2 separate regions of the Homo sapiens genome follow, and region 1 is reported to be linked to region 2. Evidence: microRNA targets listed by miRTarBase, many of them from high-throughput screens and not tested one by one. Region 2 holds a microRNA gene; the other region holds the end of a gene's coding sequence.

Region 1 (3,394 bases), not on the chromosome of region 2:
AAACAGAACCGCAGGTACACACTCACACACGCCAACTACAGCTCCAGTTGTTGCGTTCACAATATCTCACCGTACACCATCAGCATCTTGTGTGTGCATCATCAGCCAAAGCCCCGATCCTCCTACCTGATTGCTGCTTGGAACCAGAGCTGTTTCCAAAAGGAAGGGGTGGTGGCCCTCCTGCTGGGTCCTGTGTCCCAGCTCTGACCCCAGAGCCACAGAACCCTGGTCACACTGACTTCAAATTCCCCAGGGATCCTGGCTCATGAGCTCTCTCTCTCTCTTCCTCTCTCTCTCTCTCTTCCTCTCTCTCTCTCTCTGTCTTCCTTTCTCTCTCTCTCTCTCTCTCTGCCTTCCTGTCTTTCTTTCTCCCTCTCTCTCTCTGCCTTCCTCTCTCTGTCTTCCTTTCTTTCCTCTGTCTTCCTTTCTTTCTCTCTCTCTTTCTCTCTCCCTCTCTCTCTCTCTCTCTCCCTCTCTCTCTTTCTCTCTCCCTCTCCCTCTCTCGCCTAGCCTGGGGTTCTCAGGGAAGAGGGAATGTAACTGGGAGCAAAGTACCCCATACTAATTATTTTATCATTTTAGTGTAACCAGTGCCTTCTGCAAGAAGGAGATGGTAGAGTTTTCAAGAATCAGACTAAGTCTGCCCAAGTTTAAATCAGGATATTTGGGGGAAGGATTAGGGTTGGGGTGGCTATGCCATATGAGCTGGTGCCTTTGGAAAGCCAAGAACTGTGAAATGTTAAAGGGGGGATGGGCACCTGTGAACCGCCAGGAGACAGGACCATAGAGGAGGCTGAGGCTGAGGCTGAGGCTGAGCCTGATCCGCACTCCTCCCCATAGACTCGCCAGCAGCCCTGGGCTTGAGTGCAGGATGCAGCACTGGAAGTAGAGCAGAAGAGCTGGCAGACTGAAGACACATTTCTAGTGGGGAGAGCAGGGATGGGGGTTAGGAGCCCAGACCCCTCCAGCCCCAGGAGGGCACCCAATTTGCCAGGCAATTCACAACGGCGGTGCCAGCCGCCCCCACCAGCAGCGTCACTGGCTGCATGGGAGCCGCGAGAGGTAGACATTGAGCAGAAGCGACACTGAGCTGACACAGGTGCCTGCTGTGTATACAGACGTCTGGGCCCTGGGGCAGCCTGGCTGAAATTGCTGGGACCGGCCTTGATGGCAGCCTATGGGGGCTCAGTGGCCACGTGGGCAGCCCCACACAGCAGGTGTGGGCCTGGGCCAGGGAGTCGGGGTTTTCCAGGATGCAGGAAAGCAGTGCCCAGGCCAAGGTTCAGCAGCAGGAGGGCCTGAGCAGGCTTTAGGGGCCCCAGAAGGGCCAAGTCCTGCCAACCTCAGGGGACTACCCAGGAGGAGGTTATGGGCACAAACTGAGCAGCAGGGGAAAGGGAAGAGAATACAACAGTTGGAGCCAAACTTCCAGGAACCCCTAGAACCCTGGAATCTCAGCTCTATGCCTCTGGGAGCCAAAAAGGATAAAAGGGTCCTGGCAGAGCTGGGGTTATGGGGAGCCCAATCAGTAACCTTTTGGCAGGAGAGGGAGGTGGGTTGTCCCTAGGACACCCAGTTTGAGTGGGTTGTCCCTGGGACACGCAGTGCAAGGCAAACCAGCTGCACCTCTCCGTGGAGTAGGGATCCCTTCCCAGCCCACCCAGAGAGGCTCCTTTAAGAGCCCCTCCTTTCCAGCCCACCCAGACCCCCTCTCCCAGGCTGTGTGAAAGGTGTGGGTCACAGGACACTCGGAGGGACCCTTAGGCCTGAAGAGCCTCAATGGGCCAAACTGCAGGACATCTTGGGAGTCAAAGACTCACACCAATCTCAGCTAGGGGGACCCCTCCAATAACAGAAGGAAGACGGAGCCCAGAGAGGGCAAGCAACCAGCTCAGGGGCTCACAGCCAGCCCAGCTGAGCCAGAGCCCAAGGCTGCAGCCTCCCAAGGGAGGGCATGAGGCAGGGCTCCGGGAAGAGGAAGCCCTGGCCTCCAGGGCCACAGGGAAATGGTGAGGACACTGAGGACAACGGGGGTTGGGGACAATGGACAGCTGCAGGACAGACCGTCAGCACCAGACCCCACCCCCGAGGGCTGTGGACAGAGACGGCGTAACATGAGCCCGGGGATGTGCTCTCACTCCCAGAAAGTGGCCATCTTGCCATAAGAGCGCCAACCCCAAAATGGTGACCCAAACCACAGGAAGGGCGGGCACAAATGCCACTCACACCTCCACAAGACAGCCCAGAGGCTGTGCCTGCCAGCGGCGCTTGGTGCCGAGGCTGGGGCTGCCCCCTTGAGGGCCTGCCTAGCTCGCTGTGAAGCCTGGGGACGCAGGAGGGTGGTCGACTTTGCCCAAACGCTTCAGCCCCGGGCAAGCCTGCCCCCAGGATGACACAAACATGAACCCTGACTTGGGCTTGCGGTCGCAGGCCCGTGGGAGGCAGCAGTGGCTGCACCGAGATCCCCGGACCTCACCCCGTCGCAGCTCAGGGAGCCCCCCGGGCTCGGGCAGGATCCCTCCCCGCTCTGGTCGGACACTGCTGGACAGACACGGGAGGGAAAAAGCAGGAAAACGCCTGTGTCGGGGAGAGGGCAGCCCCCTCCCGTCCCCGCAGGCAGCCTGATTGGGCCCCCCGCTCCCTGCTCTGAGCACAGCCCACCCCTCAGGGCACCGACTCGAACTTGGGGGGCCCACGCGCCCAGCTGAGCGCCGGCAGCGGCCGCTCGTGGTCTTTGTCCGACTCGGGCTGGCTCTGGGCCCGCTCGGGCTTGGGGTTGGCGGCGGGCGGGTCGGGCTGCTGCACTGACATGGTTCTGCGCAGGTGGTTGCGCTTCCGCAGGAACTCTGGCTGCGCGTGCAGCCCGAAGCTGCCCTTGCGCAGGATCATGCGCGAGTTGTTCTTCTTTGGGCGTGAGCGGTGGCTGGCCTCCAGCGCGGCCAGGTGTGCGGCGTAGCCCTCGCTCAGGAACTGCGGAGGGCAGGGGAGGGCAGGGGAGGGCAGGGCAGGGCAGCAGCGCAGGGGGAAGAAGGGAGGGGAGGGGGAAGAGGGGAGGGGAGGGGAGGGGAGGGAGAAGAAGGGAAGCGGAAGAAGGGAAGGGAGAGGAGGGGAGGGGAAGGGACAGGCATCAGGCGGAGGGGTGGGGCAGGCCCCTTATCCTGATCCTGTCCCCATCATTTCCCGGGAACACTCTACGGAGGCACCTCCAGCTTCTCCAAGGAACCCTGGGGAAGTCGGGAGCTCTTTACTGTTCCAGGGTCCCCATCCTGCTTTGGACAACCATGCATCTCTACCTGTACCCATGGGTCACACCAGAGTTCTCTGGATTTTCTTTCCTATTTTATTTTAATTAATTAATTTATTTATTTGAGAAAGGGTCTCGCTGTGTCGCCCA
Region 2 (3,394 bases):
CATCCTTGACTGATTGGGTTACCCGTTTTGTGTCTCTCTGATATGACAAGACCACCACTTAAGAGCAGCTCAGAAAGTCGGGTTCATTAGTTAAGACACTATCCAGTAATAGGCAGATTAGGATAAGAGCATACGTAATTTTCCTAAACTATCCTTATGTTCCAATTGCAAAGTACCATATGGACAAGTAGGTGTAGGATATTTTCTGGGAATGAAAAATAGCTTGTAAATGCAGCAATCTTAATTGCTTTAATCGTTGCTTAAAATTGAAAGGCATGTAAAAAGTCTTGCGATATGATAGGAGAGATTATGAGTAATTATTAATACCTCTGAAAAACACTTTATCTTGCTCACAGAGAGCTGCTCAGGCTAACGAAACCTGATTAAGACAGCTGGGCCTTTCATTGATTATACCTGCTTCATGACAAGTCTAATTCTTTATTTGTATGCAAACTAGATGCATGCAACATCAAGCGTCGGCACCAATTTCAGAGGTAAATGCCCATTGTCAGAGCCACCCATCCGGGAACTTTCTGGATTAAGTGCTGTTCCTGGGAACGTATGGCACGCACAAAAAGTGATGCCCGTAGTGATTAATCTTGATAAATAAAGGGTCCAGAGTCGGCATGTTGGGGGAGATGGGGAAACAATGAGGCGAGTGAGTCCTTGGAAGGCAGTCGTTGCCTTCTCAGATGTAACACAGATTTAACAGTGGAGTCATTACGGGCCTGCTTCCCACCAGCCGACTGCACTGTATTTGCATTAAGAGGTTCAGGCTGAAATCTGCTTATGTGAATCTGCAGAAATCATAAGCTGGTGTGTCTGTGAGGCACCACAGAGCTCTCTGGGAAGGCCACAGCCACAGGCCCAGGAGCGAAGGCCACCTGCCTTACTTTTTGTCCAGTCACCTTTGGGGTCTCAGGTTAACAAGAGGTGCCCAGATGTAGACACACCTCCACACCTAAAAGGTGGACCAGCAGAGCTCTCCTAGACCGCAGAGCTCTCCTAGACCGGGCCTGGGGTCCGCAGGAGGCCACTGTGCTCCAGCCACCCAGGGAATTTTTCTCTTCACCTCTGTGCTAGCACTGTCCTGGCTGAATGGAGTTGGAAAGAAACTCTCTGCCCGTCTTCCATGCTGGGGAGGGGTTTGGGCCTGGCCTCGGCTTATTAAAAAGCTCAGCTCCGTTTTATTACAGCTCAAGGTAGAGAAAGTTAAAACGTAAGCCCCCATTTGTATTTAAAATTAACTAAACTCTGGATTAATCCGCACAATCGTAAACTGGAGGTAGGCGTGCAGACGTGGATAAGACAAAACTCGGTGCATCCAAGCCCCCAGGCACAGCGCGCACACTCTCGGAATGTGAAGGCATTTATGAAGTCCTTTACAACATGCAGTCAAAGAGGTTAATTGAAAAATTTCTTAATGTCATTATGAAAGAACTAGATTAACCCAAGTTAATTCACTTTATTGTTCAAAATAAAGAGGAATAAGCACTGAACTCACTTGCAAATTTGGGGCGTGAATTAGGGGTGAGATGTTGTCTTTAAGGACTCTGCCAGTTTAATTAAGATATGGAAAATTACTTATTGTTCTTCACCACTAAAGTGCTAGGAATTAACAGGCAAATGTGGTGCCTGGGCCTTTCATATCTCCGCCATGTGTGTATTTGTTTAATACCCATAAGACTCCGTCATTAAACCTCAGGCACGGATTGGGCTCGTTCTCCGCCGGCCCTCCCGCTTGTCCGTGCACCTCTGTGAGCCCAACCGGATGGAGGAGCCACAGAAAACGCTTTTATTCAGCCTCCTTGTAAAGGCCACAAACAGTGTTGTCAGCACGCACGTGCCTTCCTGTCTGTGCCTGCCTTCGAAGTGCACGGCAGGGCCAGGACGGGTCGCTGTGGGTGGGGACTGGTCTCCACACCCGCAGACGGAACTGGTACTGAAGGGCAGTGATAACTGGCCGGTTCCTCCCATGAATCACCTCCTGTCTGCTCTTCCTTTAGGAGGTGTTACTGAAGCGGGCGGCGGACCTGGTGGAAGCCTTATACGGAATGCCTCACAACAACCAGGTAGGTGGAGGGCGGCTCCCCTCGCCCATCCTCCCCCCCATGCCAGAACCCGTGGGCAGCCGGCGTGGCTCCAGTGTGGGCTTTCTGGACATAAGCATGCTTTTCCAGCGACTCCACAGGAGTCTGATGTGAGAATGGCTTCCCATCCTTGCCCTCACGCTAGGTTCACGTAGAAATGATGAGTTGGTGTCAGGACCCAAAAGCAGAAAAAACTTGTCACAGCGGGAGTGCACAGCCTTGAAACCCATCTGCAGTGTGCAGTGGCGGGTGGACGGTGTTGGTGCCGCTGGGAACCAGGGAGGGCTGGATGGGCGCCCCACAGCATGCAGGACAGAACACAGCAAATGTTGCTCCCTTTTTTTTTTTTTTTTTTTAGACAGGGTCTTGCTCTGTCACCCAGGCTGGAGTGCAGTAGGGCAGTGTCGGTTCACTGCAACCTCCACCTCCCAGGTTCAAGCGATTCTCCTGCCTCAGGCTCCCGAGTAGCTGGGATTACAGGCGTTTGCCAACACACCCGGCTAATTTTTGTATTTTCATTAGAGATGGGATTTCGCCATGTTGGCCAGGCTGGTCTTGAACTCCTGACCTCAGATGATCCGCCTGCCTTGACCTCCCAAAATGCTGGGATTACAGGAGTGAGCCACCGTGCCCAGCCAGATATTGCACACTTTCAAAAGCGTCAGTAAATGATTTTCTAGGGGAAGCTCTTTGCCCATTAAGAAATAGATTTGGTCATGGTCTGGGCAAGGGACAGTGGGATGCCACCATGGTGGGCCCCCGAGAGTGCGGCCAGCTGGGCCGGGCCTGGGGTGACAGGCCGGCTCCCACTTGCTCCTGCTGCAGGAGATCATCTTGAAGCGAGCGGCGGACATCGCCGAGGCGCTGTACAGCGTTCCCCGCAATCACAACCAGATCCCCACCCTGGGCAACAACCCTGCACACACGGGCATGATGGGCGTCAACTCCTTCAGCAGCCAGCTAGCCGTCAACGTGTCAGAGACGTCACAAGCCAACGACCAAGGTATGCCAGCATGCTGGGAGGACCCCTGCCCTGAACGCCCTCCGAGGGTTGGTTGAGGCCTTAGCTGAAGAGGCACGTGTCCAGGGCCAGCTGGGGAATGTCCGTAGCGTTCTGTTCTCTCTGGCTCTGCTGGTTCCTTTGCTCAGGAAGACCTTGCTGCAGGTCCTCCCAGCCAGTGCTGGGGTAAGAACACTCAGAGAGCCCAGTTACTAAAAACGGCAGCTCCAATGGATGCCATGCGGGTCACTGGTATTTGCTAGAAGTTTCCCTCAATGTGTTCATAAGAGACTTTGCTTTCCTT

What was found. Region 2 holds the annotated microRNA hsa-miR-4297 (UGCCUUCCUGUCUGUG, at 1,845-1,860, shown strand). A microRNA usually pairs through its seed, bases 2 to 8, with sites in the 3' UTR of a target mRNA and lowers its output. Matches are read on the target gene's strand: a 7mer-m8 pairs with bases 2 to 8, a 7mer-A1 pairs with bases 2 to 7 and ends in A, and an 8mer does both.
Region 1: miRTarBase lists PITPNM3 as a target of hsa-miR-4297. Seed matches in the 3' UTR shown: 7mer-A1 at 592-598, 8mer at 384-391 and 8mer at 350-357.

The regions. Positions count from the first base shown.
Region 1 is chr17:6,452,674-6,456,067 of GRCh38, forward strand. PITPNM3 (PITPNM family member 3) reads right to left here. Exons shown (of 20, transcript NM_031220.4): 20 at 1-2,970. The coding sequence ends at 2,665. Among named protein-coding and RNA genes, the nearest start is that of PIMREG, 9.9 kb to the left of the region's middle. RefSeq lists an enhancer at 1,128-1,846 and silencers at 2,416-2,545, 2,566-2,695.
Region 2 is chr10:129,841,815-129,845,208 of GRCh38, reverse strand. It overlaps MIR4297 (microRNA 4297), which reads left to right and starts at 1,835; the gene lies at 1,835-1,910. EBF3 (EBF transcription factor 3) reads left to right here. Exons shown (of 17, transcript NM_001375380.1): 12 at 2,007-2,072; 13 at 2,916-3,093.